Homo sapiens: one gene and its partners. The main gene of each other region encodes a partner of the protein of the gene in region 2 in a complex. Each region holds a gene or a part of one and is shown on either strand. Other genes may lie near its edges. A codon is read from its position in the direction of its gene.

What was found.
Region 1: SF3A3 (region 2) and SF3B1 share a complex: the UniProt entries of both Homo sapiens proteins name them as parts of the 17S U2 SnRNP complex.
Region 3: the proteins of SF3A3 (region 2) and SF3A1 are in contact, whole or in part, in an NMR structure (PDB 2DT7), measured with the Homo sapiens proteins. Residues at the interface, in NP_006793.1 of Homo sapiens: Glu80 (codon at 7,236), Phe81 (codon at 7,239), Glu83 (codon at 7,245), Phe84 (codon at 7,248), Tyr85 (codon at 7,251), Arg87 (codon at 7,257), Leu88 (codon at 7,260), Ile91 (codon at 7,269), Lys92 (codon at 7,272), His95 (codon at 7,281); in NP_005868.1 of Homo sapiens: Ala161, Phe162, Asp165, Val166, Leu169, Thr170, Phe173, Asn177, Phe181, Gln184, Leu185, Lys188, Phe195.
Region 4: SF3A3 (region 2) and SF3B4 share a complex: the UniProt entries of both Homo sapiens proteins name them as parts of the 17S U2 SnRNP complex.

What each region holds. Positions count from the first base shown.
Region 1 is NC_000002.12:197,397,016-197,404,037, reverse strand, and holds part of SF3B1 (splicing factor 3B subunit 1), read left to right. Parts: intron 1-273; coding exon 274-453; intron 454-1,002; coding exon 1,003-1,089; intron 1,090-1,211; coding exon 1,212-1,482; intron 1,483-1,907; coding exon 1,908-2,053; intron 2,054-2,149; coding exon 2,150-2,296; intron 2,297-2,512; coding exon 2,513-2,638; intron 2,639-3,101; coding exon 3,102-3,323; intron 3,324-3,603; coding exon 3,604-3,786; intron 3,787-3,871; coding exon 3,872-3,983; intron 3,984-4,999; coding exon of another isoform or gene 5,000-5,069; intron 5,070-5,456; coding exon 5,457-5,577; intron 5,578-5,921; coding exon 5,922-6,053; intron 6,054-7,022. UniProt on the Homo sapiens protein: Component of the 17S U2 SnRNP complex of the spliceosome, a large ribonucleoprotein complex that removes introns from transcribed pre-mRNAs.
Region 2 is NC_000001.11:37,987,023-37,994,873, reverse strand, and holds the start of SF3A3 (splicing factor 3A subunit 3), read left to right. Parts: upstream 1-4,851; 5' UTR 4,852-4,908; coding exon 4,909-5,004; intron 5,005-5,278; coding exon 5,279-5,326; intron 5,327-7,037; coding exon 7,038-7,090; intron 7,091-7,195; coding exon 7,196-7,301; intron 7,302-7,851. UniProt on the Homo sapiens protein: Component of the 17S U2 SnRNP complex of the spliceosome, a large ribonucleoprotein complex that removes introns from transcribed pre-mRNAs.
Region 3 is NC_000022.11:30,346,873-30,353,894, reverse strand, and holds part of SF3A1 (splicing factor 3A subunit 1), read left to right. Parts: intron 1-822; coding exon 823-944; intron 945-7,022. UniProt on the Homo sapiens protein: Component of the 17S U2 SnRNP complex of the spliceosome, a large ribonucleoprotein complex that removes introns from transcribed pre-mRNAs.
Region 4 is NC_000001.11:149,924,794-149,931,870, forward strand, and holds the start of SF3B4 (splicing factor 3B subunit 4), read right to left. Parts: upstream 3,011-7,077; 5' UTR 2,967-3,010; coding exon 2,933-2,966; intron 2,502-2,932; coding exon 2,373-2,501; intron 2,126-2,372; coding exon 1,583-2,125; intron 1,250-1,582; coding exon 1,043-1,249; intron 1-1,042. Other genes in the region: MTMR11 (myotubularin-related protein 11), read right to left, coding at 4,336-4,524, 4,830-5,123, 5,572-5,754, 5,999-6,172, 6,467-6,633. UniProt on the Homo sapiens protein: Component of the 17S U2 SnRNP complex of the spliceosome, a large ribonucleoprotein complex that removes introns from transcribed pre-mRNAs.

The DNA of each region.
Region 1 (7,022 bases), on a different chromosome or scaffold from region 2:
ATGGAAGATACTTCAGGGAAATGAAGGCATTTAGTACATACCTCTGTGGTTCGTTCTATTAAATTACTCTTTTGAGTTAACATAAAATTTCTATCACAGGAATTGAAATTCCAGAGTAATTTGGATGGAAATGAACTCATGCTGTCTATGTAAAATGTGTGTAAAAGTAAACACTAAAATATTAAAGTATGGAAAATCTTCTTTGAGTAATTTGCTCATTCAAAATGTTTGATTATAAAGAAACCACACCTATTACTCTGCTCTTTTTCCCAGGCTGCATTGCGTCAGATTACTGATAAAGCTCGTGAATTTGGAGCTGGTCCTTTGTTTAATCAGATTCTTCCTCTGCTGATGTCTCCTACACTTGAGGATCAAGAGCGTCATTTACTTGTGAAAGTTATTGATAGGATACTGTACAAACTTGATGACTTAGTTCGTCCATATGTGCATAAGGTTTGTTCTCCTTAATAGTGTTTCTGATAGTTTAAAGTTTTAACTTTTTCAGTTAATCAATGTTAAATTTACATATTCTCCTAGACCTTTTCCTTTGCACAAGTACACACCATACATGTACAAATACAGTTTTATACAGATGTACAGATGTTAGTTTTTGTCATCTTTGCCGTAAGAGGTTCATATTATTTAATTTTTTCATTTGCTTTTATTAAAATTAGATTAGGATGAGAACATATGAGAACTAACGCCAGTTAGTATTAAGAACCAGTTTTTTCACCGATGGTAATTATGGTGCAGTATGTTCATAGGGTGTATAAGTTATTTCTTTAAAAAATATTGAATATTAGTGTGTCACTAATAGCTCTCTTAAATTTTCATCTCTGTCTGGAGTTTGAACTTGTATAATTAAAATTCTTAAACAGTTCGTCCCTTGATTAACAAAAGTCCTGATAATTCTAAATTTCTTATGTATGTTTAATTCTGTACATGAGCATTTCATCAGTAATTGATGTGAAAGTGTAGCTTCTTCTCTTTTCTCTTTTTCAGATCCTCGTGGTCATTGAACCGCTATTGATTGATGAAGATTACTATGCTAGAGTGGAAGGCCGAGAGATCATTTCTAATTTGGCAAAGGTATTTACATTTAATTTCTAGAGAAGAAAATTTATATCTGTTTATGGAATTGATTATGGAAAGAAATGGTTGAAGATTAATATTACCAACTCATGACTGTCCTTTCTTTGTTTACATTTTAGGCTGCTGGTCTGGCTACTATGATCTCTACCATGAGACCTGATATAGATAACATGGATGAGTATGTCCGTAACACAACAGCTAGAGCTTTTGCTGTTGTAGCCTCTGCCCTGGGCATTCCTTCTTTATTGCCCTTCTTAAAAGCTGTGTGCAAAAGCAAGAAGTCCTGGCAAGCGAGACACACTGGTATTAAGATTGTACAACAGATAGCTATTCTTATGGGCTGTGCCATCTTGCCACATCTTAGAAGTTTAGTTGAAATCATTGAACATGGTAAGTTGTAATGTAACTTTGTCTTTTTTTTTTTTTCTTTAGGAGACAGGGTCTTACTATGTTGCCCAGACTGGACTCAAACCTTTGGGCTCAAGTGATCCTCCTGCTCAGCCTCCTTAGTAGTTGGGACTAGAGGTACACACACAGCCTGTCCATGTTTAATAGGACAGCTGTCCTAAAATTTGGGCTACTGATTTGGGGAGATAAATGGAAAGGCATAGCTCTACAAACTATAGATTTTATGATGGGTTTGTTATATTATCTGCTGACAGGCTATGGTTCATGTTTTGCTTTTACCTAATTTTGTTTAATGTGAACATATTCTGCAGTTTGGCTGAATAGTTGATATATTGAGAGAATCTGGATGATATTGTGTAACTTAGGTAATGTTGGGGCATAGTTAAAACCTGTGTTTGGTTTTGTAGGTCTTGTGGATGAGCAGCAGAAAGTTCGGACCATCAGTGCTTTGGCCATTGCTGCCTTGGCTGAAGCAGCAACTCCTTATGGTATCGAATCTTTTGATTCTGTGTTAAAGCCTTTATGGAAGGGTATCCGCCAACACAGAGGAAAGGTAAATCCACCAATTACCTTTTGATTTATCTTCATTAAAGTTAAGGCGACATAAATCTAAATTACTAAAGTACATATATTTTTTATTTAAAAATAGGGTTTGGCTGCTTTCTTGAAGGCTATTGGGTATCTTATTCCTCTTATGGATGCAGAATATGCCAACTACTATACTAGAGAAGTGATGTTAATCCTTATTCGAGAATTCCAGTCTCCTGATGAGGAAATGAAAAAAATTGTGCTGAAGGTAATTATTCCAGATTTGTTAATGTAAACTGGATATGTTTCATGGTTCTAACAGAATTTTAAAGTGTTTTTAAAAATCAACAAAAAAAACTGTATGTTACACGAATACTGTTTGATTTGTTTTTAAATTTTATTTTTTAAAATCACGTAATCAGCAATGAGTATTCTCTTCATTTCAGGTCAGTTGATTTATTATTACTATTTCTTAACCTTTTAGGTGGTAAAACAGTGTTGTGGGACAGATGGTGTAGAAGCAAACTACATTAAAACAGAGATTCTTCCTCCCTTTTTTAAACACTTCTGGCAGCACAGGATGGCTTTGGATAGAAGAAATTACCGACAGGTAAGCTTTTATTGTAAAAGAATATTCTCAAAAGTCCTTTCAACTCATTCTTTAGTCAACTTGAATGCATGTTGTATATTATTTTTTGCCTTGATTATCTCACAGTTTATATGTGCTTGATTATGAAAGGAGATGGATTTTAGTCAGCCAGTTAACTTCCATTTTGATTTTGGATTCGAGGATTAATACTTAACTGTGAATTGATGTTTTTGTCTGGTACATTCAGTGCTTTATCTGGCTAGATGAAACATGGACACAGTTTTACCTTGAATCATGTTAACTTATACTCATTTTTCGATGTTTGGTCACTTTTCTCTTCAACTTTAATAAGTAGCAATGAATCATTCTTACCATGTTTATTAGCTAAATAAGTAGTATATTTAGAGTATTTGGTTTTCATGATGTTGCTTTATTTCCTTGGAAAAGCAGTCTAAAAGGTTTTTTGTTTTTCTGTTCTTTTTAGTTAGTTGATACTACTGTGGAGTTGGCAAACAAAGTAGGTGCAGCAGAAATTATATCCAGGATTGTGGATGATCTGAAAGATGAAGCCGAACAGTACAGAAAAATGGTGATGGAGACAATTGAGAAAATTATGGGTAATTTGGGAGCAGCAGATATTGATCATAAACTTGAAGAACAACTGATTGATGGTATTCTTTATGCTTTCCAAGAACAGACTACAGAGGTAATGAAAACTATTATGGCACATTGCTACTAACTTTAATATTTGTAGAAAAGCATATTAGTTGTCAAGCAAATTTTTCTAGAATGCAATTGAATTTGAAGTAATTTTTAAAATGCTCAGGGGGTTACCAAACGATATTATTCTACCTCAAGTTTTAAGATTTGATGTAAAAAAACAGCAACAGATGTTTGGGTGGTTAGAAAAGGTTGACTCTTAGTGTATTTCAACTGTGCAGTCATAAACCAAATGAATATGTCTTTTTTTTAAATTTATTTTTTAGGACTCAGTAATGTTGAACGGCTTTGGCACAGTGGTTAATGCTCTTGGCAAACGAGTCAAACCATACTTGCCTCAGATCTGTGGTACAGTTTTGTGGCGTTTAAATAACAAATCTGCTAAAGTTAGGCAACAGGCAGCTGACTTGATTTCTCGAACTGCTGTTGTCATGAAGACTTGTCAAGAGGTAAACTTTTGCATCAAATTCTTACTTCTTCCCCAAATAGTTTAATGTAAATAGTAACATTTTAACATTATTTGTTTTATTATAGGAAAAATTGATGGGACACTTGGGTGTTGTATTGTATGAGTATTTGGGTGAAGAGTACCCTGAAGTATTGGGCAGCATTCTTGGAGCACTGAAGGCCATTGTAAATGTCATAGGTATGGAATTTGCTGGTTACATAAGACTTTTTCTTGTTTTAACTTTCTTTTTCTTTTTTTTTTCGTAAGTAAAATCTTATTTAGGAGTTGGGAGGTTTTTGTTAGCTTTTTAAAAGCACTTCAAGATTGTAGTTAAGTCGGGGGATGTCACAAAAGTCTTGTTTCCCAAAACCCATTTATATTTTACTTTAAAGAGAAAAAAAGGGTAAGTTTAGGACCTACATGAGAGGTGGGAGTAGTCACAGCTCAAAAAGCTTTGAAGTCATGGAATACAGGACCCTAGTAGAAATAGTGTGTCAGGTGAAATATATTCTGCCATGTTCTGCTGCGGGGTGAAAAGGCAATCCTAAAGTTTTAATTTAGTTTTAGAACAATATATATATATTTAAACCTTGAATTAGCGATTATGACAGGTTTTTTGCTTGTGATCAGTTTCAAGGAATATAATCAGAGAAAAGTGAACTGATCAAATTATTGTCTTTATTTACATACCCAAGTTTTAAATACTGTCCATTCAGTTTTCTAACCCGTAATACAGCTATATTACAAATGGTCTTGGATATGGAGAGCAAAGTTTTTATTCCATTAGGGCAGTATGAAGAAAACAAATGGTTTCTTATATTTAATCTTTTTTTTAAATTGATTATAACTGTTGCCAAATGTAACTCCTGCAGAGTTTAGAGGCTCTGATAACCTAGCAGAAGTCAAAATAGCTGACTGTGAGAGAGCCACTGTTTGTTTTTCCTCATTTTGTAAGAGGTATTTATGCGATACACATGTTTAAACTATTGTATTTGCATATAATCTCCAATGCAACCCTATCCTCTATACTTGAAGATAGCTACTTGCCAGAAATCATTTACATGGCCACTTGTAGGGCTCTGGTTTGCAGGGAGTTTTAAACCATATTGTTTGTCAGAGAGGCATGGGAAGAGCAATGGAGAGAGAATCAGAGCAAGTGATTCTAGTTAGAGCAAGAGCCCCTGCCAGCTGCCTCCTTTTTTCTCTCTTCGTAGGTGTAAATACCATCCAAGTATGCCCTGCATTGCAGGGAGACTGGAGATCTGTTTGTTTTGCAGTTAAAGGGTAAGGGGGCCCTTTCTGGAAATTTTTGCTTTATTTACATGTTTACCTCTGGCTTATATTGTTGTGTATGGCCGGAACATAAGCTGTCCCCATATTTAAATGTCAGTGCACAAATATATTTCAGAATCAAACAAAACTTTTTTGTTATTGAGTATCCATCATCCTTTAAATCACTTCACTGATTTCTTTCATTTCTATACATAATCAAAAATTGTTAATAAAAGTTAAAAACGATTCTGAGTCTGGTCAGAATCTGGGGCTTTCTCTTTCCCTAGGCAGCTGTAAGTTTATATTTATACATAGTCATATATGACATTGCTAAGTAAAAGGAAAGTGAACAAAAGTTGCAATTCAAATGTTGATAGTTTATTGACTTCTATTAAATAGGTATGCATAAGATGACTCCACCAATTAAAGATCTGCTGCCTAGACTCACCCCCATCTTAAAGAACAGACATGAAAAAGTACAAGAGAATTGTATTGATCTTGTTGGTCGTATTGCTGACAGGTAAGCAGATTACCCACACATTTTTATAAGCAGTATCAATTTTCAAATTTGGCCACTTTGTATTCAATTAGCAAAATTTCCTTAATGTCACTAATATAAGTGTAAAAGATTAGGCTATCCAGTATTAATATTTTCAGTCAAATTTCAATTTGGATGGTAATGGGGGTGGCAATGTAATTTTAGGACTAAACCTGTAAGACTAACTCTTCAGCCTTTCTGAAGAGTAGTAAGTTTTATTTAATGCTTAAAATGAGTTAATCATGTTTTTAGAACTGAATTTGCAAATTTATCCTTAAAACTTTTCTTAATGTCACAATAATTAATATGTGTATTTTTTAAATTAGGGGAGCTGAATATGTATCTGCAAGAGAGTGGATGAGGATTTGCTTTGAGCTTTTAGAGCTCTTAAAAGCCCACAAAAAGGCTATTCGTAGAGCCACAGTCAACACATTTGGTTATATTGCAAAGGCCATTGGGTGAGTGTTATTTACTTCCATTAAAAAAAAATTACTTTATAATAAATGCATTGTGGTATTGGAAAATACTTCCATGTAGAAATCTCTTTTGAGGCATGGTCTGAATAATGCAGTTGAGAAAGCTCTTCATTTAACCACTGACCTTCTGATTATTGGAATGTATTGTTAAATTCTTTTTTTTTTTTTTTGAGACGGAGTCTCGCTCTGTCACCCTGGCTGGAATGCAGTGATTCAATCTCGGCTCACTGCAACCACCGCCTCCCAGGTGCAGGCGATTCTCCTGCCTCAGCCTCCCCAGTAGCTGGGACTACAGGCATGCACCATCACGCCTAGGTAATTTTTGTATTTTTTAGTAGAGATGAGGTTTCACCATGTGGGCCAGGCTGTTCTCGAACTCCTGGCCTCAAGTGAGCCACCTATCTTGGCCTCCAAAAGTGCTGAGATTACAGGCGTGAGCCACTGCGCACAGCCTGTAGTCTTAAATTCTTAATTAAAATAGATGGAAGGGTTTAAGACTTACTTTAATTACACTTTAGGTGTTTTCAGGGAGGGAAACAGTACCATTTTCAGAAAAATTTAAAATGTGTGCTGGTCTTCTAGGATATTGCTTAAACTATTAAGGCAAGTTTTTAGTCTCACAACATCATTTAAGTCTCATATTAATGCTTTATATGTTTTAAAAATCTTATTATGGATTGTTTGAGCCCAGGAGTTCAAGGTTACAGTGAGCTGTGATTGTGCCACTGCACTCCAACCTGGGCATCTGGGCACCTGGGCGACAGGGCGAGACCCTGTCTCTAAAAAAAACAACAAAAATGCTATTCTAACATTACTCCACGGATTTAACTGAATTATAGCTGCTTTGTGAGATAATCTGTGGTGGTTTGCTTCCACTCCATCACAACTAAAATAGGAAAAAACAGTCATTGTAGAAAACGAGACACCACATGTCCATGTGGCTTAAGAAAA
Region 2 (7,851 bases):
CCCAGACATATAATCAAGGCCAGGCGCAGTGGCTCACGCCTGTCATCCCAGCACTTTGGGAGGCCGAGGCGGGTGGATCACCTGAGGTCAGGAGTTTGAGACCAGCCTGGACAACATGGTGAAGCCTCGCCTCTACTAAAAATACAAAAATTAGCTGGGTGTGGTGGCAGGCATCTGTAATCCCAGCTACTCCGGAGGTTGAGGCAGGAGAATTACTTGAATCCGGAGATGGAAGTTGCAGTGAGCCGAGATAGCACCACTGCAGTCCAGCCTGGGGGACAAGAGCAAAACTCCGTCTTAAAAAAAAAGAAACCCAGACATATAATCAAAGGTGTGTCATTGTTTAATTGACAATTTTTTCTCTCTTCCTTAGTAAAGCATAAAATAATACTGAGTTTTACATTTGATGGCATCTCGTATTCAAGAAATACAGTAGCTCTCCAAGTTTATACCCCCCAAAAAACAAAACAAAACAAAAAACATTTGCTGAGTCTCCCCACTCCCTGAATGGAGATTTCTACTTTACCTCTTTCCTAATGTCCCAGGAAAAGCCCCAGATGAGTTGTGACTGGGTCCTTTCCCTAAGCTTGGCAGTCCTGCTTAAATTTCCGATATACAAATAAGATCCCCATAACACCCTCATGAGTGGGCAAAACACAGGTCACTATTTCCATTTTATATTTATTTATTTATTGAGACAGAGTCTCACTCTATCGCCAGGCTGGAGTGCAGTGGCGCGATCTCGGCTCACTACAACCTCCACCTGCCGGGTTCAAGTGATTCTCCTGCCTCAGCCTCTCAAGTAGCTGGGACTACAGGCGTGCGCCACCATGCCCAGCTAATTTTGTTGTATTTTTAGTAGAGACAGGGGTTTCACCATGTTGGCCAGGATGGTCTTGATCTCTTGACCTCGTGATCTGCCGCCTCGGCCTCCCAAAGTGCTGGGATTACAGGCGTGAGCCACCATGCCCAGCCTCCGTTTTTTCAAACTTTTTTTTTCTTTTTTGAGACAGGGTGTCACCCAGGCTTGAAGATTATAGCTCACTGTAACCTCAAACCCCTGGGCTCAAGTGATCCTCCCGCCTCAGCCTCCCAGGTAGCTGGGAGTACGGGCAAATGCCAGCAAGCCCAGCTAATTTTCTTATTTTTTGTAGAGATGAGGTCTCGCTATGTTGCCCAGACTGTTCTAGAACTCCTGGCTTTAAGCGAAATTCCCAGCTTGGCCTCCCAAAGTGCTGGGATTACAGGCGTGAGCCACTGCACCCAGCCTGCTTTCAAACTTTTAAAAACAAAAAGTAATGCATGTTTACTGTAGAAAAATTGGGCTGGGTGCGGTGGCTCACGCCTATAATCCCAGCACTTTGGGAGGCCAAGGCAGGAGGATTGCTTGAGCTCAGGAGTTGCAGACAAGCCTGGGCACCACTGTGAGACCTCATCTCTAGTAAAAATTTTTAAAAAATTACAGCGGGTCTGGTGGCTCATGCCTATAATCCCAGCATTTTGGGAGGCCAAGGCAGGAAGATCGCTTGAGTCCAGGAGTTTGAGACCAGCCTGGGCAACACGGCAAAAAACCCCATCTCTACAAAAAATACAAAAATTAGCAGGGTGTAGTGGCGCACATCTATAGTCCCAGCTACTCAGGAGGCTGAAGTGGGAGGATAGCTTTAGCCCAGGAGGTCGAGGCTGCAGTGAGCCAAGATTGTGCCACTGTACTCCAGCTTGGCAAGACCCTGTCTCAAAAAAAAAAGAAAAACCTTGGCTTGGTGTGGTAGCTCATGCCTGTAATTCCAGCATTTTGGGAGGCCAAGGTGGGCGGATCACCCTGAGGGCAGGAGTTCAAGACCAGCCTGGCCAACATAGCAAAACCCCATCTCTGCTAAAAATACAAAAATTAGCTGGGCATGGTGCCACGCACCTGTAATCCCAGCTACTAGGGAGACTGAGGCAGAATTGCTTGAACCCAGGAGGTAGAGGTTGCAGTGAGCCAAGATCGTGCCACTGCACTCCAGCTTGGATGACACAGAAAGACCCTGTCTCAAAAAAAAACAAAAAACAAAAAACCTCGCAGTTTTTTGGTGTGCGGTGGCTCACACCTGTAATCCCAGCATTTTGGGAGGCCAAGGCAGGCAGATCACCCGGAGGTCAGGAGTTCAGGACCAGCCTGGCCAACATAGTGAAAGCCCGTCTCTACTAAAAATACAAAAACTAGCCAGGTGTGGTGGCAGTCACCTGTAATCCCAGCTACTCAGGAGGCTGAGGCAGGAGAATCGCTTGAACACAGGAGGTAGAGGTTGCCGTGAGCTGAGATCGCGCCACTGCACTCCAGCCTGGCGACAGAGCGAGACTCCCAAAACAAAACTTTAAATGTGGCTTTTGTTGCGTGGGAAAAAAATAAAAAATTAACCAGGGTGGTGGCACCCACCTGTGGGGGCCACAGGGGTGGAGGCTGCAGTGAGCCATGATTATGCCACTGCACTCCAGCCTGGGGCAACAGAGAGAGACCCTATCAAAAAAAAAAAGAAAAAGAAAAAAAAGAAAAAAGTGAACAATAGGTAAATTACTAATAATGTGATGCATTATGTCCTCCTCGTTCTTTTTTGTTAAACATAAATGTGCACATATGTATTTTCAGTTTTAAATTAATTTTTAAATTGAAAAAGTATGTTTAAGAATAACTTTTTATGCTGTGCTTGGGGTGTATACAAAGAAAAATCTCCCATATCAGATCTCCAAGGCTGTCTGCTCAGGAACAACCACTGTTTACTGTTACTTGGATATCCTTACAGAAATAATCTCTTTGCACATCTATTTTTATACACACTTGTGCATCTAGCTTTTTTCAGTTTGTGTGGCCATCTCTCCATATGAGTTCATACAGAGTTTTTAACAGTTTTATTGAAGTGTAATTTATATACCATAAAATTCACCCATTTTTAACAGTACAAAGCAATTAATTTTAATAAAATGAATAGAGTTATGCAACTATCACCACAATCCAATTTTAGAACATTTCTACCCATCCAAAATGGATTCCTTGTGCGCATTTGTAATCACTTCCAATCTCACCTGCGGTCACAAGCAACCACTCATATTTCTGCCTCCATAGATTTGCCTTTGTTAACTCAATTGTAGCCTAAAGCTGCCTCCTTACATATTTTAAATTTAGCCTAAAGGTTTCTCTGTACATTGTGAACTATAACCTAAATGGAGTTGTAAACAGACCATAGCCTACTCTTTGCCAATCACCGAGTTTTGGCCAATCAAACATGGCAAACTATGCAAACCGTGTTCAAATAAGGCAAAGACCAAGCTGTAATAACCGGTGTTTTTTTTTTTTTTTCTTTTTGCAGGGGCCATGCTAATCTTCTCTGTATGGTTCCAATTTTAGTATATGTGCTGCCATAGCAAGCACCAGTGTTTTTCTTTTAACACCGTTCTGGACGTTTTATCTGGACATACACTGTTGTTTTTCTGTCTAGCTTCTTTCACTTAGCATGATGCTTTCATGGTTCATCATTGTAGTATTCATTTATTGCAGAATAATGTTCCATTGTACTGTATAGATATACCACACTTTATCCATTTGCCAGTTAATGGACTCTTGGGCTGCATCCAGTTTTTGTCTATTATGAATAATGCCGCTGTGAACATATGAACACATGGACATGTTTGCATTTCTCTACCTACAAGTGGAGATATATAGACAGAATTTTTTTTAAGGCTGTATGTCATTTCACAGCTGGTCTTCCACTGCTTGGATGCACAGTATTTTATTTTATTTTATTTTACTTTTTTTTGAGACGGAGTCTCTCTCTGTCGCCCAAGCTGGAATGCAGTGGCATGATCTCAGCTCACTGCAACCTCTGCCTCCTGGGTTCAAGTGATTCTCCTGCCTCAGCCTCCCGAGTAGCTGTGACTACAGGCGCGCGCCACCATGCCCGGCTAATTTTTTGCAGTTTTAGTAGAGACGGGGTTTCACCGTGTTAGACAGGATGGTCTCAATCTCCTGATCTCGTTGGATGCACAGTATTTTATTTAACATATTCGCTGCCGATAGACAAGTCGTTTCTACACGTGAATTTCTTTTTTTTTTTTTTTTTTGAGACTGAGTCTCATTCTGTCGCCCAGGCTGGAGTGCAGTGGCACGATCTCAGCTGACGGCAACCTCTGCTTCCCGGGTTCAAGCGATTCTCCTGCCTCAGCCTCCGGAGTAGCTGGGACTACAGGCGCCTGCCATCACGCCCGGCTAATTTTTGTTTGTTTGTTTTTAGTAGAGACGGGGTTTCACCATGTTAGCCAGCCTGGTCGTCTCGAACCTCTGACCTCAAGTGATCCGCCCGCCTCGGCCTCCCAAAGTGTTGGGATTACAGGCGTGAGCTACCGCGCCCGGCCTCACATGTGAATTTTTTTAAAAACACCACCAGCAAAACCCCACTATTCCCATTTTCCTGAGAAAGACGCTGAGGTCCAGAGAAAGAGAAAACGTTCTCATAATTTATGCTGAAAGCTGCGTCCTCAAGTTCCGGTTTCCCAACTCCCATCCGCACTCCAACTGCTCGCGCAGTCCACACAGGATACCTGCCCGCCAAGCCGGCCCCAGCAAGCCGCAGGAAGCCGTCCGCTGAACCTCAGGTTCTTGGGTTTTCCTATGCCCCCTGGAGGCATCTGCGAACCTCTCGGCATCGCTCCACCACACCTCCCACCAGCAGGTGGCACTGTTGCCATCTCCATAACATGGACTGGCCTTCCTTGTGGTGCTCCTGTTTTCTTAAGTCCCGGGGCACTTCCGGCACTCGCGGAACTTTGGTGCAGCCTGATGCGCAACGTGGGGACTCAGGCGCGCTGGGCGGCAGGAGTTGCTTCCGGCCGTGTTGGTGGTCTGAATTGAGAAGCCGCGACTAAGGGAAGATGGAGACAATACTGGAGCAGCAGCGGCGCTATCATGAGGAGAAGGAACGGCTCATGGACGTCATGGCTAAAGAGATGCTCACCAAGAAGTCCACGGTGAGTGGGGCCTGAGCAGAGGCTGCGGCAGGAGCACGAGCCTCTATCCCGTGTTTGACCTCTGAGAGCTTGCTTTGGCCCTCAGAACCTCCCTGCCTTCCTCCGGGCTCCCTCTCCGAGCTCCGGTCTTGGTAACCTCCTCCCGGGGTCCGGAGCCCCAGAGGCCTTTCTGCCTCAGCTGGTAAAAGCTGAGCGGGTAAGCTCCGCCCTCGGGCGGCCTTTTCTACTCCAGAACGCAAACTAACGGCGTTTGTGTCACCGTTTGTTTTTTCAGCTCCGGGACCAGATCAATTCTGATCACCGCACTCGGGCCATGCAAGATGTGAGTGCCCAGCTGTCTGCCTCTCTTTGGGTTGGCGAGGGCGGGAAAAGAGAGGGGAAGTGAAGTGCGGTGTCTCAGCATGAGTCCCTGGCCAAAGGTAACCGGATTGGCCAGTCGCGGGCTCTCTGCCTGGACAGATGTCCACAGGCTGCCGAACGTGAGGGTGCTTCCTCAGTTCTCTGAATGGGGAACTCTTGGGCATTCTTCATTAATCAGAAAGGTGCCCTTTTTTTTTTTCTTCTTCTTCTTCTTTTGGACGGAGTCTCGCTCTGTTGCCTAGGCTGGAGTGCAGTGGCGCGGTCTCGGCTCACTGCAACCTCCGCCTCCTGGGTTCAAGCGATTCTCCTGCCTCAGCCTCCGGAGTAGTTGGGACTACAGGCGCTCGCCACCACGCTCAGCTAATTTTTGTATTTTTAGTAGAGACGGAGTTTCTACTAAACATGTTGGTCAGGCTGGTCTCGAACTCCTGACCTCGTGATCCACCTACCTCGGCCTCCCAAAGTGCTGAGATTACAGGCTTGAGCCACCGCGGCCGGCTTACACGTGCCCATTCTTACAGCATCCTGTATCCCTTGGATGTGCAAACAATAGTTATGAAGAGTCCATGACTCAGGTGCATAGCTACAATCCTTCCCTTAAATGAAAAAAAAAATATATATATATATATACACACACACACACACACACACAACACACCCCGTATGTTAGTGTTTTTCTCCCAGGATACTACTTTAAAGCGTTTTGGACTACTAAACTGCATTTGTCTGGTAATAGTTCAGTTTATTAAAAGAAAAACAAGATGCTATTTAAACTGGGTGATGAATAAATGGAGGTTCATTTTACTACGTTCCTTACTCTTGTGTATGTTTGAAACCTGTTTAAAAAGGAATAAAAGACCTACTTGGACCTTCTGATTTGCAGGAGATTATCAGATTACAAGCCCTCAGCCCCAAAATACTCTGAAAACCAAGGATTTTCTTTTTTTCCCCTTGGGTGATTATTTGGTGTCAAAATCTGACCTGATCTCACTTGACAGTAAAACCTGGCCCGAACCTGTGATAGGCTTTTTATGGTCTTTAATTTATCCCACTTGGTAAATAAGGTATGAGGTTTACTGCAGAACTGTGTGCTCCAGATTCCACTAGGGATGTTACATAATATATGATACCTCTTTTGAACTTAAACATTCCAAATTCTGAAACAAATCTGGTCCCAAAAGTTTTGGAGGAGGGACTATGTACCTGTACCATCCTGAATTAGTATACTTTGACTACAAAGGAAGCCTATGTAATGTTTATTTAGCCTGCCTACTCCTCAGTCAAGCGTTTTGAAATAGTGAATATCATCTTTATCTTTGAGGATGTTAGGTGGGAACTAGTGTTTGGCCAAAGAGGGTGAGTCTGTTACAGGGGAAGTTAGGCATCGGTGGTATGTAAAGATAGGAGCCACCCCTTAAATGTATCATTTAGGTAATCTTCCAATCGACCTGCTTAAAAAACTAAACAGGAATCAAGGCTGTTAAAGGGCTATTAAAAAACTAACCAGGAATCAGGGCTGTTAAAGGTACTAGGAAGCACAGAACTGTTAAGACTATCTCATATCCATGTCTCTTGAGGTTGCCCTGGGCTTTGACTGGAGAACCCTTGTTGTTTGCTTAGCTCTACAGTTGTGCAAATTGCATCATTCTGATGGTTTTGTATTTGCCTTTCAGAGGTATATGGAGGTCAGTGGGAACCTGAGGGATTTGTATGATGATAAGGATGGGTAAGTGACAGTCACAGCTAATCCAGGAGTTAGTGCTTCTGAGGAGCCATGGTTAGAGGACTGACTTTGTGCTCTATCTTCTTTGAAATTTTCCTGAAATTGCAGATTACGAAAGGAGGAGCTCAATGCCATTTCAGGACCCAATGAGTTTGCTGAATTCTATAATAGACTCAAGCAAATAAAGGAATTCCACCGGAAGCACCCAAATGAGGTATGTCCTCAGAAAAGTATTTTCTCCAGACCTATCCTTAAAGCATACTAAAGGAAAGGTATAAAGGAAACTGGACATGTGCTATTCAAATGCACTTCAAGAAAGAACTTGCCATTTAGCTGCAAGGACCATAGTTAGCTGACATCCTACAATACAGTGTTTTCAGTATCTCCCTCAGCTTTTAAGCCAAGGCCGGCTGGGCACGGTGGCTCACGCCTGTAATCCCAGCACTTTGGGAGGCTGAGGTGGGTGGATCACCTGAGGTCAGGAGTTCAAGACCAGCCTGGCCAACATAGTGAAACTCAACCTCTACTAAAAATACAAAAATTAGCCAGGCATGGTGGCATGTGCCTGTAATCCCAACTACTCAGGAGGCTGAGGCAAGAGAATCACTTGAACCTGGGAGGTGGAGGTTGCAGTGAGCCGAGATTGCGCCATTGCACTCCATCCTGGGGGACAAGAGTGAGACTTTGTCTCAAAAAAAAGAAGTCAAGGCCACATTTTGTGGGCAGCTCCCAGCCAGTGACTGAGCACAGTATGGGTACTAGGG
Region 3 (7,022 bases), on a different chromosome or scaffold from region 2:
GGAACATGGTTTCTCAGAATGTAGTCGGAGTCCCTGCATCTGAATCACCTGGGCATTTGGTAATGTAGCAGGACGAGTCGCAGACAAAACTCCTCAGACACCGGATTAAAGAAGGAAGAGGTTTTTTATTCATCCGGGAGCGTCGGCAGACTCGTGTCTTAAGAGCCGAGCTCCCCGAAAAAGAAATTCCTAGCCCTTTAAAGGGCTTACAACTCTAAAGGTCTATGTGAAAGAGTCATAATAGATCAAGTAAGCGTGAGGAACGTGACTGGGGGCTACATACATCAGCTAACAGAACAAAAAGTTTTACAGTGCTTTCTCATACAATGTCTGGAATTTACAGATAACACCAGTAGTTTTGGTCAGGGGTTAATATTATTATTATTTTAACCACCAGGGCCAGGTGGTGGCACCAAGGTCGTCTAGCTATTTATCTTACTTCTGTTTCTTTCCAACTTTTTGCTTTCTCCCTTTTCTCCTGTCTTATAAACTAGGGAAAAGGGGAGGTTGGGGAGAAACTGGGAAGGACAACAGGAGAAGTGCTGGTCTCATACCATAGTAAAAATGCAGATTCCTGGTCTCACTGAGATAGTCCAGTGAGAGAGGAGCCAGGGAAGCTGCTCTTCTCCCTGGGTCCCCAGGAGCAGCCCCTGCAGGTGCAGTGAACTTAAGAGAACTGCTTTTCTGAAGTAGAGGGTTCTAACCTGAGGGAAGTCTGTGAATGAAAGTCTACTCTGAATGATATCCTAGAGGAGTTTTACAGTGGAGAACCTGCTCTGAACCAGGGACTTTAAAACCTTATTTCTTTTCCTGTTTGCACAGCCCACAGAAGAAGAAGCATCTTCAAAGGAGGATTCTGCACCTTCTAAGCCAGTTGTGGGGATTATTTACCCTCCTCCAGAGGTCAGAAATATTGTTGACAAGACTGCCAGCTTTGTGGCCAGGTAACAGAGCTACTTGGGTGGGTCAGAGGTGGGTTTCAGCATGAAGAGACTTCAGCACTGAATCAGCACAAGGGTTTTTAAAGAGACGTTGTTGGCTTGGGCCTTTTAGTTCATAAAAAACCACAACATGGCACTGGGGTAGGCAATAGGTAGGACTGGTGTCCCTGACACAGCATAGCAGTGGCCAAAGTGAGAATCACACTTAGCCCCACAGTCACCAGGAGCCTCTGCTTCTAAAACTGGCCTGAGGAAATGCCTGGAAAGCTGCTTCATCACAGATGGTGTGTGTCTGTGCCTGAGCTGCTGGCCTGAGGAAGATAAAAAGGGGAGTTTATTATTCTCATTGTACAAAGACCACATTCCAAGAGCCTCAAATGACCCATCTGCAAAATGGAAAAAATGCCATCTCAGAGTTGTTGTGAGGCGGGAGTGAGGTCATGGGGCTGCATGCAGTTCAGTTCCACGCGGGTGCTAGTCACCTCCTCAGATGGCATGGGCATTGCTCCGAGTTCCTCCTGTCTCTCCTCACAGTTCCATGCAGGTGCTAGCCGCCACCTCAGATAGAATGGGCATTGTTCCGAGTTCCTCCTGTCTCTCCCCACAGTTCTGTGCAGGTGCTAGCTGGCTTCTCAGATGGAATGGGCATTGGTCAGAGATCCTCTCTCTCCCCACAGTTCCATGCAGGTGCTAGCCGTCTCCTCAGATGGAATGGGTATTGCTCTGAGTTCCTCCTGTCTCTCCCCACAGTCCTGTGCAGGTGCTAGCTGGCTTCTCAGATGGAATGGGCATTGGTCAGAGATCCTCTCTCTTCCTACAGTTCCATGCAGGTGCTAGCCGCCACCTCAGATGGAATGGGAATTGCTCCGGGTTCCTCCTGTCTCTCCCCACAGTTCCACGCAGGTGCTAGCCGCCACCTCAGATGGAATGGGAATTGCTCCGAGTTCCCCCTGTCTCTCCCCACTGTACTTACCCTCACATCCTTAGATGGAATTTTTTTACTGGCCCCTTGACTCCAAAGGTCAGTACATTCTCTAGGGTATTTAAGGTATTCCTTTGGCAGCCCTCAGTCCATGTCCAGCCTACAGATGTTTTGTTTGTCCTCACAGTAATTTTTTCGAAACTCAAATTTGTTGCTACTATTTAAAAATGAGGAGGTCAGGTGCTGTGGCTCTTGCTTGTAATCCTAGCACTTTGGGAGCCCAAGGTGGGAAGATCACTTGAACTCAGGAATTTGAGACTAGCCTGGGCAACATAGTGAGACCCTGTCTACAAAAAATAAAAAGTTATCTGGCTGTGGTGGCATGGGCCTGTGATCCCAGCTACTTAGGAGGCTGAGGCAAGAGGATCGGTTGGGCCCAGAAGGTTGAAGCTATAGTGAGCCATGGACTCTAGCCTGGGTGACAGTGAGACCCTGTCTCAAAAAAAACAAAACAAGTAAAAATGAGATTTCACAATCAGTCTGGATTTCTGGACAGTTCCTTCATGTGTGGAAGCAGGCCCAATCAGCATGTGTTCTCCAGGGACCACGTCACCCCCCTGAGGCAGTGTCTCAGTCAGTATGCATCATTTAACGGATGGTCCTTCCTTTCCCAACCTAATAAAATTAGACATAAAGATTACTTTGGTTAGACTTTCTTTTTTTTTTTTTTAAATGACATGGAGTCTCACTCTGTTGCCAGGCTGGAGTGCAGTGGTGCAGTCTCAACTCACTGCAACCTCTGCCTCCTGGGTTCAAGTGATTCTCCTGCCTCAGCCTCCCGAGTAGCTGGGACAACAGGCGTGCGCCACCACGCCCAGGTAATTTTTGTATTTTTAGTAGAGACGTGGTTTCACCGTGTTGGCCAGGCTGGTCTCAGTCTCTTGACTTAATGATCCCCCGACCTGGGCCTCCCAAAGTGCTGGGATTACAGGCGTGAGCCACGGCACCAGCCTACTTTGGTTAGACTTTCACTATGTCAGCTCTGCAGATTCATCTCATTACATTTCAAGGGCTTTGATTACCTTTGAGTATTAGGTTGAAAGCTTCTCTGTGCTTGATTGAACATTGTGATGATGTTGATTGGGTCATGTCAGATTTAGACAGTGTTGTGTTTAAGATAAATGTTTAATGGCTCTTAGCAGTGTTCATGCCTCCCCTTTTCCCCTGATACTTTAAAAACAGAATATACAGAAAAGGGGAGTTGGGTGAAGAATCACCATATTCTCATTACCAGAGTAGTGTCTACCAGCTGTTTTCACATTTTTCTGTTTCCTTCTGTCCTTGGAATCCTTTTTTTAGATCCTTGTAATACTAGTAAAGATATTCCACTCTGTGTTGTAAGCATTTTTCCATTTTGCTCCATGGTCTTCATAATGCCCTGTGGTCCTTTATTAAGGGGATGCACCATGTAGAGGTGAAAGGCTTTCCTTGACTTGGCCACCATTTCTGTATTTTCCTTAGAGGAGGAGGTTTCCAACATTTCTTTTTTAGAGACAGAGTCTCGTTCTGACACGCAGGCAGGAGTGCAGTGGCATGATAACAGCTCACTGCAGCCTTGAACTCCTGGGCTCAAGTTATCCTCCCACCTCAGCTTCCTGAGTAGCTAGGACTACAGGTGCCTGCCACCACACCCAGCTAATTTTTTTTTTATTTTTTTTATTTTTTTTAGTTTTTTTGTATAGATGGGGTCTTTCTGTGTTGCTCAGGTTGGTCTTGAACTCCTGGCCTCAAGTGATCCTCATGTCTCAGCCACCACAAGGTGGCTGGGATTACAGGCAGTGACCACCGCACCTGGCCTGTTCCCAACATTTCATTTTGGCAAATTAAGCTGTGGGGAAATCTCTGAGCATTTTCTTTCCCTTTTAGATCGTTTCCTTAGAAGAAAATTCTGTGTGGCTCATTATTGGCTAAAAGAGCATCCTTAAAAGATTTCTTAAACATTTTGCCAAGTAGCTTTCCAATAATTTTGTGCCATCCTCTGCTGCTAAAGAAATAAGAGGATATCCAAGGTCCCTTTAAATATATATGACCAGGTTAGGTGGCTCACGCCTGTAATCCCAGCACTTTGGGAGGCCAGGGTGGGAGGATCGCTTGAACCCAGGACTTGGACACCAGTGTAGGCAATATAGTGAGACCCCTGTCTCTACAAAAAATAAAAAAATTAGCTGGGCATGGTGGCGCATATCTGTATTTCTAGCCACTTGGGAGGATCACTTGAGCCTGAGAGGTCAAGGGTATGATCATGCCAGCGTACTCCAGCCTGGGGCGATAGAGCAAGACCCTATCTCAAAAAAAAAAAAAAAAAGAAAGAAAAAAATCCAAAACCATGCACATCCCTAGATTGATTTTTAGCTATGGTGATTGCTTTTGTAGGCATTTCTAAAATCTGTGAGCCAGTGTGGTGGCTTACACCTGTAATCCCAGCACTTTGGGAAACTGAGGTGGGCAGATCACCTGAGGTCAGGAGTTCAAGACCAGCCTGGCCAGCATAGTGAAACCTCGTCTCTACTAAAAATACAAAAAATTAGCCAGGTGTGGTGGCGGGCGCCTGTAGTCCCAGCTACTTGGGAGGCTGAGGCAGAAGAATCGTTTGAACCCGGGAGGCAGAGGTTGCAGTGAGCCAAGATTGTGCCACTGCACTCCCACCTGGGTGACGGAGCGAGACTCCGCCTCAAAAGTAAATAAATAAATAAAATCTGTGAACTTATCGTTTACATTGCAACAAAGAGACCAATATCCGAGTTAAAGCAGGCATGCAGAACTCTGTGCTTCACTTCTCCTGGGTTCACGTATATTTATGGAGCATGCAGTAGAAATGCACAACTGAGCGGTTTTCCAAAAGTTTTTTCGCTAGGTTAGGCCTTTTCATTTCCTGCATGTTCCTGTCAAGAAACTGAAGTGGAAATTACCCTTAAAAAGTCCCACCAGCTGGGTTGAGTCAGAATCATGTCTTTTTCTGTTGAAATCTATTCCTTCTGGTGGAGAGTATGATTCTAAAATTAACGTTAAGCTAATTTAAAGCAACTGAATAGCTTGGAATGAACATGCCAAGCCTTCTCATTGTTTTATTTTTCAGATTGTTCCCAGATGGGGTAAAGTTATGGCTTAGGCAGTGGTACAGGAGACAACCAGGGCCCCTTTTTCCAGGAGCCCTTTGTCTGCCCGAGGCATTTGCTGGGTATAGTGGCCTAGTTTAGCAGGATTTAAGTGTGCATTCACCTTCATTCTTATGTGTGGTTTGCATTATTTAAGGAGTAGGGAGAATTTTTTTTCCAAAGCATGAGGTTCCAGTTAGACTAATATACTGTCAAATTGAGACCTCATGGTGTTAGTTACACGGCAGGGTATGACCACGACTTGCTGAGGAGCCAGCCTGGGTGTCGATCACTAGTGTGGCACATAATTGCTGTGGTGGTTGATCTGGGGCACAGCACTGCCTGTACCCTGTCTCCTGCCATCTGTCTTAAAAAAAATTTAAAAAATTTTTGTTTTCAGAGGTGAAATTTCATTTTGTTGCCCAGGCTTGGGTATGATCTTCTGGGCTCAAGTGATCCTCTCGCCTCAGCCTCCTGAGTAGCTGGGACTACAAGTGTGCGCCACTGTGCCGGGCTCCCACCCCCTCTTAAACTCACAGGCCAGGGATATGAAAGTCTGAAGAGTGGAGCTGGCTAGCTGGCACCAGATGCCGGGGCCATGCCTTGGTGTGTTTGGGGCAGTTCTAAGTACAAGGTTCTCGCCAGAGGAGCAATGGAAGGCCCCACAGACAATGTTTATGGAACAACCCCTCCTAGCCCCTTGCATTTGCAGGCCACTGTACGATTTGAAAAGACTTTGAGGGCTGGGTTCAGTGGCTCACGCCTATAATCCTATCACTTTGGGAGGCCAAGGCGCTTAAGCGCAGGAGTTTGAGACCAGCCTGAGCAACATGGTGAAACCCCGTCTCTACAAAATGTAAAAAAAAAATTAGCCGAGCATGGTGGTATATGCCTGTAGTCCCAGCTACTCAGGAGGCTGAGGTGGGAGGATCCCTTGAGCCCAGGAGGTGGAGGTTGCAGTGAGCTGAGATTGTACCACTGCACTCCAGCCTGGGTGACAGAGTGAGACCCTGTCTATAAAACAAAAACACTTTGGCATCTCCTCAATAATGTTTCAAGGTAGAAAGGGAAACTGGTGTTAGCTGCATTTTACACATGGGGAAATGGAAGCAAAGAGTAGTTTGGTAACTTGCTGTGGGTCAGAGTGAGTCAGCAGTGAACCTGAGACTTGAACGTGTTCATATCTTGTGTCTTTAAGGTCCGTGTACTTTCTGACTGACACAGGTGTTGTATATAAGTGTGGCACTTTGAATATTACTGTTGGGACATTTTAAAAATCAGGGTTCCCTAAACATCATTATAGGGACATTTTTTCATTATCCTGAGGTTTTGAAGGCTTGCTGGGGACATGGGGCATATCTGGGGAACCATCCCAGGTACAGACAGTGGTTGGAGACCTCCCTGCTGATCTTACCACACCCCTGTCATCTGAAGGTGCCTTATACAGCTGTACGAGTCTGGGTTTTTGCTGAGGATGTTTCCTGTGTGGGCCTCACCAGTATAATGGGGGTGGTTTTAGGGAGTACTTGGACAAGGCGTTAAACCAACTATTTGTTTTTTGTTTGTTTGTTTGTTTCTTAAAGACAGGGTCTTGCTCTGTTTTCCAGGCTGGAATACGGTGACACGATTCTAGCCCACTGCAGCCTCAGACTCCTGGGCACAAGTGATCCTCCCACCTCAGCCTCCTGAGTAGCTGGGACTAGAGGCACACACCACCATGCCCAGTTAATTTATTTTTATATTTTTTTGTAGAGTTAGGGTCTTTTCTTGTTGCCCAGGCTCAAATCAACTAAATTTTCATGTCTTTCAGTCTTTCTTGTTACTCAGAGGACAAAGTCTAGGTTTGGTGCTCATGTACCTTTTACACCTCTCCAGCACTTGCTACCCCTTTGAACTAAGAGAATTAGTCTCAGCAAACTTCCAGCTAAACTTTGACAGTATTACTTTGTTTTCATTATGTTCACTTTTGACTACCTTTTGTTGGTAAAGGCATACTGATTTTTT
Region 4 (7,077 bases), about 110 Mb from region 2:
GCCAGTTAACTCAGTAATCAGGAGCAAAATGCAGTTATAGAAATGAGGGGCAGGGGCCAGATCATAAAGAGCTGTGAATGCTATGGTAATGAGTTTGGGTTTTACTCTGTAGGTCAAAGGGAGCAACAGAGGAATTCTGAGCAAGTGTGTGCACATCTGTGTCTTAAAAGACCTACACTGTGAAAGTAGATCAAAGTTAGGGAAAACTGGAGTCAAAGTGGCAAGAGATTACTACAACAAATTAAGTGTAAAATAATGAGGCAATGAGAGACTGAACTAGGGCACTGGCCATGGGGAGAGATGCCACTGATACAAATAAGACTTGGTATTAAGAGTGGGGTGATAGGGAGCAGTCAAACATAGCTCTCAGATTCATGAATTAAGCACCTGAAAAAAAAGAACACTAGAAGAAGAATGGATTTGAAGGAGAGGGATAGAAAAATGACGCTATCTATTAAGCAGCAGCATCAAGGATCTGGAATATCAACAGCTACGGACTAGAGATACAGACCTAGGAGGCATCAGTATATACCCAATTAAAACTATAGATATATGCAGAAAAGAGAAACAAGCACAAAAATCTAGGCACAAGTAGACATGAGTCTATCACGGTAGCTGAGATTAAGAAGTCAGAGAGAGGGGTGGAGGATCTAGAAAAGCAAAAGCAAAAAGAGACAAGAATTTCAAACAGGAGGACACAACTAGTTTCAAGTATATCAGAGGTCAAACTAGATAAGGAGCAGAAGCGTCCCCGAGATTTGGCAATTAGGTCACCACTTTGAGGTGGAGTCAGAGAAGAGAATGGAACTAAAGATTAAAGAAATAAAAACTGGCAAGTAGAGTCTACTTGTCAGAAAAACTTAAGAAATGGATTCAGGGTGGTAGATGTTAGAGAGCATTTTGTATGTTTTTATAATAGAATGTCTGAAGGAAAGGAAAACTCTGAAACTGTTACTGTTGAGGAACAAAGGGCAGCAGGGTGAGTGGTAACAGAGATGCTCTACCAAGCTCTTCCCTCCCTTTCCCAACAAAGCACACCTACCTGGATGGGGCATCCCACCCGGTGGGAATGGGTGAGGATGTGAGTGTCCATGACCAGGATGTCCTGCCCCTGGGGTTCCTGCCGATGGGGGGCCATGTCCTGCAGCCCCAGGAGGCATAGGTGGTGGGGGCATGGCTGGGGGTATCCCAGGTGGGAGGGCTCCAGGAGGTGGCACTGGGGGTGGGAAGGAGCCAGGAGGAGGCATGCCTATAGAGGAAATGGAAAAAGGAAGAGTTAATGGTAGTGAGGAGAAAATGTCTTTAAAGAGCCTGTCCTGATCTGGCCTCTCCAGGCAGGGTGAGCTCTTTCCCCCTCCTCCCAGTGCTCTAAAATCAAAAGCAATGTTAGAAAAGTCAACCAACTTCACCCTCCTAAAGAAACCCAACAACTTTCTTCTTCACCACTACCATCACCCCTCAGTCCTCTTCCCATCAACTCACTGACTCAATGTCCCCTGTCCCCCTTTCAGACTTGTTTTCTTCTTCCTCCTGACCCTCTCCCCCAACCTTAAGACAAACATATTTTAACCAAAAGCTTTACCTGGTGGAGGAAGCCCAGACCCCAATGATGATACCACAGGATTGGGAGCAGAGGGTGGAGGAGGTGCATCTGCAAACAGCTGATGAGGGCGATCAGCCTGGGAGAGCGGGTTCTGAGCTGCCAGAAGTCGTTCGGCTGCTGAGCCATGGCGCTCACCCTTGGAGTCCTTCTTGAAGGCATAAGATACGGTGATAGGACGGTTACAGAGGTACTGCCCATTCATGGCTTCAATTGCTGCATCCGAAGCATCAAATGAAGCAAAATTAATAAAGGCATAACCTTTGGAGTTGCCTGTGTCAGGGTCCCGCATAATTTTGGGGGTTTGTAAGATGACCCCAAAGGCGCTGAAAGTATCATAAAGCAACTTCTCATCAATCTCAGGGTCCAGGTTCCCAATGAAAATGTTGGCCCCTACATCCAGGTTTTTGTTGTGAGCTGATGCTTTGTTCACCCGTATTGGCTTCCCATAGAGTTTGATCATGTTCATGATCTTAATGGCATAGTCAGCATCTTCCTCACTCAAGAATTCCACAAAGCCATAGCCTGGAAAAGTGGAGAAGAGGAGGTTAACAACGTAAGTAAAGAGACTGAAAATGGGGTAAAATTCATCTACCCTCTAATCACAAAGAACAAGAAAGAAACAACATCACTTTACTTAAGAATGGTTCCAGAAATAAACTGAAGAGAGGCTTAAAAGAAAAAAATCTTTAGGTTGCTCATGTTATTCCAAAACAGTTGTGAATACTGCTGGGACCCTCCGGGAGCAATTCGCCCCTTGTCATGTACTCACCTTGGTGCTGGCCAGTGACTCTATCCTTTGGCATGTGGGTGTTGACTACTGGTCCAGCCTGGAGAAACAGTTCCCACAGCAGCGGTTCACTAACCTTCTCATCCAGGCCCCCCACGTACACAGTGGCATCTTGAAGGGAGGGAGCAAAAAGAGCAAGCGTGAGAGTGTAACGGGAAGGAAGGAAGTGATGGAAACATGAAGATGGAACCCAACCAGGGGAACTGGGGACCGCGGTAGGGGACAGGAGCAAAAAAAAAAGTTTAAACCCTTAAACTTCTCTCTTCCCAGGACTTCGGGAATCCTCTGAAGTCTAATTTAGTATTGTGAGTGGGTTTTTTTGATTTTTTGAGTGAGAAGTCAGCAGGGGACCGGACTTAAGTATCACACCCAGAGGCCTCAGCCAGCACCCGGCCACCCCGCCCCCAACAGGCAGAGGGCCGGTCTCGCGCCCTCTGGGGAAGGGAGGAGTCCAGTCTCCCACCCCTGCAGAGACACTGCTGGCTGTAGTCGGGGCCTCCTAGCCACGCTGAGCCCATTCCAGACTTTCCCCCTCCAGTTACCCTGATTCCGCTCGGAGATCGGCCCGGCAGCCATGGCGAAAGAGATCCCGCCGTCTCCCAGCAGCGGTTCCGCCTTCTGACCTCAGCACGACTTCCACTTCCGGGGCGAAGACGGACGTAGCGGTGGGCGGGGCCGCGGAAGAGGAGGTGCCTGGAAGCGGCTGCAGCCATCTTAGGAGCCTCCGAAACTTAACCTGGGTCGGGCGGTAGAGTCCTCGGCTCGCGTCCTGAGGTGCCGCTGCTAGTTGTCTTAGCGAGGAGGGCGGAACGGAAACGCTCAGGCCCTCTTAATGCACTGCTAGACTTGAAAGAATCACACTGCTCTCAAAAGTGTAAATTCGAAAGCTAAAAGAACAAAAATTTCAGTTTTAATATATTTTGTGGACAGTGATTCTTCTTCTGTTGTCCAGAGAAGGATGTGCTGAAGAGTTCCCCCCAACCCGAGGACTTGGGGGCTTTCAGGCGCAGAGGGAGCCTTCCCTCTCGCCTGCAGCCTTCTTGCAGATTTGGCCTCACAACCCTGATTTGGGCTGGAGGTATTTGGTTTTCCCTCAGGGGAGGAGACTGCGAAATGTCTGAGCTTAGAGTGACGTCTGCGCTCACCTCGTCCTAATTGCATGGGGAGGGTGAGGGCTGCTCCGCGTTGGTGTGTGACCACAGCTGAGGGGTGGATGGGATCGGAGCTCTAGAGTCTGGATCTCTAGAACACTCTGGCCCCATCTGCCTCTAAATGGGAGACACACACAAGAGAACCCTTTCCCCAAATTGCACTTGAATTTTGCAGAGCCTCACCAAACCCAGTTCCCCTATTTCCTTAGCAATAATATGGTGGATGCCTTCCTCTCTTGGGTCATACACCCCTTTTACCCACCACTTTCCTACCTAGGAGAATCCTTTATTCAAACACAAGAAACAATGCCAGCAATGTGTATAAATACTATGCTTTAATGAGCCCCTTAAATAGAAATTCCACTACAAAAATACAGAGGAGATAGGGTGTTTCCTGTATCCGCCTCATTCCCATAGAAAACTATAAGGGAAGAAATAGAACTTGGAATTAAAGCAGCAGCAAGGCGAGGTGAGAATGCGATTTCTAGGCCATCTTGTTGGGACTGATGAACAGCATCTCTGATCTCATGATTTAACATCTGGTTATCCAGAAGGGATGGGATTGGCCTAAAAAAACCGATCAATTTCTGGATTGTTTTTGTTTCTTAATCCTTCAAATGACAAGAAGCAAAAATATTTGTAGAAACTAAGCAAGACAAGAGTTGGAGCAGTTAACACCACTATCTGCAGCAGAAACTCAGACCTTCTTAGTGAACTTAAGGGCTGAAGTGTGAAAGCTGAGGCTGCAAGTGCAGATACAAAAAAAAAAAAAAAAGATTAGACAGAACCCTCCTCTACCCCAGATCCCCCTCTGCCCTGCCTTTGAGAATGCCAGCAATTTCAGTGGGATTGAGAATGGTATGTGGATCTCTTTTCTTGGAGTGATCCTCAGGAGATATTCTTGGTGTCCATTTCCGTAATAACTCCTGAAGATGGGATAGCTCATCCTGGAGGCCAGAGATTGTGGGAGCTGAGAGGCCCATCTGGGGAGGAGGCAAAGAGGAACAGAGAAGAATACTGTTGTAGCTCTGGCCCCCTGCTTCTCTGCTACTTCTGGTGTCTTTAATTCTGTTTCCCCTTTCAGCTATGCCCTAAATTCCACTTAATCTAAGCCACAAGCACTTTCCCGCACCTCCTACACTCCCAAACCTTGTTTGATGCCAAGAGGAGTAGAACTTCACTTCCCAGACTCCCAGAGGCTTCAGCTCCTTGCCTTTCCAGCTCCTGTTCATCTGGTTCAGCAGAGTCAAGTCCCTTGTCCCACTCCCAGTCTATTTTCCCTTCTTACCTGGACCTCAGGCCTTCCCCTCAGGTAGCAGCGTCTCCAGAGCCTGATCTGGGGTCCCAGATACCCAGGCAGCAGCAGCCCTGGAGGTAAAGGGCAAGCTCCCCAATGTGAGGGGAGACCCCATTCCTGGTCAGCCAGGCTTTCAGAGGAGATAGCAGGTCGAGGGAGCCAACGAGAAGAGACTGCCAGCAGGGAAGGACTGTCCCGCCAAGGACAGAGCTGATTCAGGGGGGTCAATGCTCCTCTAGAGAAGAGCCACACAGAACTGGGGGGTCCAGGAACCATGAAGCTTGGCTAAAAGGAAAAGAAAATCAACTGGCAACAGAGAGACCAGATAACCCTAGTTTCCCCAATCTGGATCAGGACAGGGTGTCCTGCTGCCACCCACTCACTGCACTGGTGACTAGAACTACAAGCCTCCCCATGAGAACTCTTCTACCCTCCTCATTAGGCTTCAACTAGGCCTCGGGACTGATTAAGGTTGATTTTAGGGCACCTTATGTGTGCACGAGACAGGAAGATGAGTAAACAGACTTGAGGAAGGACAAAAAGGGTGCCCTCTGTGCTATTCTAGGTCTTCTGTCTTCCTAGGGACACCCAGGGACTATAAGTGACAGCTGCAGAAGAGTAGTGGAGTAGCTTTCCCTAAGGAACTCAAGACATTTTGTCTTTCACTTCTCACTGTCTAGTAGCATGAGCCTGTGGGAACGTCAAGGGAATTTAGGAAGTTTAGACACTTCACCTGTGGTCTAGGGAGCCAGGAATCTGGACAGTGTTCTGGGTCATAGCCAGGATTCTGGAATTGTAGTATCTGTGCATTGCTATAACGTAAATCCCAGTCCCAGACAGACAGCTGCAGGTTAAAAGAGTTCCCAGCTGGAGGCTGGGAGTATCCTGGGGTGTAGACTTGTGTATAGGAGTTTAACTGGACAGAGGAAGCAAGAAAAAGGATGGTTACACACAATCCTCCCACATCTAGAGACAAATCATGAGATTCTCACCTCTTATTCTAGGAAAGATGTAGGGCAAAAGTCTCGTCCTGAAAATGAGAATAAATCTCCCCCTCCCCACTCACAGACCTCACTTCTCATAAAACAAATCAAGACCAAACTTCAGAGAGTACATCTCAATGGAAAAAAAAACACGAGTCAAAAATAGAAGTCACTGACCTGTCCGCTCTGCTTTCCGCGCTCCCAGGGGGTATTTCTCAGGAAGGTAAGGGTGTCAGGAACCCTGACACTGTCATGAAGAGCAAGAAGGAAAAACTCAGAGAATTCAAAATCAGCTGGAAACTGCTGGAGGAGCTGCCAGACACAATCAAGGAAGAGGAGAAACACCGGAGCCTGAAAAGAAATTAAGAGGTTGGAAGGGATTATTGGGACCCAAAGAGGGAGGATGACGAGATGATAAGGGAATGGGGAACACAGGGAATAGGGGGAACTTATGGAAGTCAGGGAATGAAAATCTGAATTGAGGGTAGCAGGGGCTTGTAAGGCCTCACTCATCAGGATCTTCGTCCCAGCCTAACCTCGGGGCCCTTCTGACCGGATTCACCTCCAATGGATTATACAAAATAATTTCTCATTCTCTTACTTCCTTAGTAATATGCCCCCGATGCCATCCCGAATCATTCTCACCTCTTCACTGGCCCCAGTTCCCCCAAGCCGAGTCAGGAAGGGATGTCCAGCTGCCACCCACTCTCGCTGTACTAGTGATTGGAAGCCAAACAGTGTTCGGGCTTCGGGGGCTGAAAGCAGCTGGACGAGTGAAGAGAGGAGGCCATTGAGATCACGATCACCGCGCTCTGGGTGATAAAGAGGAAGAAGGGACAAAGAAGAGGGGTCCAAGAAACTAGGGCAGAAGAGAATGAGAAGAGAAATACGGCAAGGAGAAGTGAGAGGCACAGAGGGGAAAGGTTTGGGGTAGGAGGATTGAGAAAGCACATAGAAGTGAAGAGAAAACAAAGACCTTGAATGATTCACTTCCTGGACTCCACCCGGATAGAAATACCCAGTTTCACATGTAAGGGGCAGAATCACAATTCTCAAACCAGCTTCCACACTGCCCTTCCCACCCCAACCCCAGTCTCCATCCGCTGATGGAAGGAAAGGAACAAAGGGGCTAAGACCATCCTAGTGTCAGGGACCACAAGTTGTGATGGGGAGGCAGAGGTAGCACTGAAGGATGAGAGTAGAGCTCGCAGGTAGTTCCCAGGAACAGGAGAGGAAGAAGCCTTATGGGTCTCCCT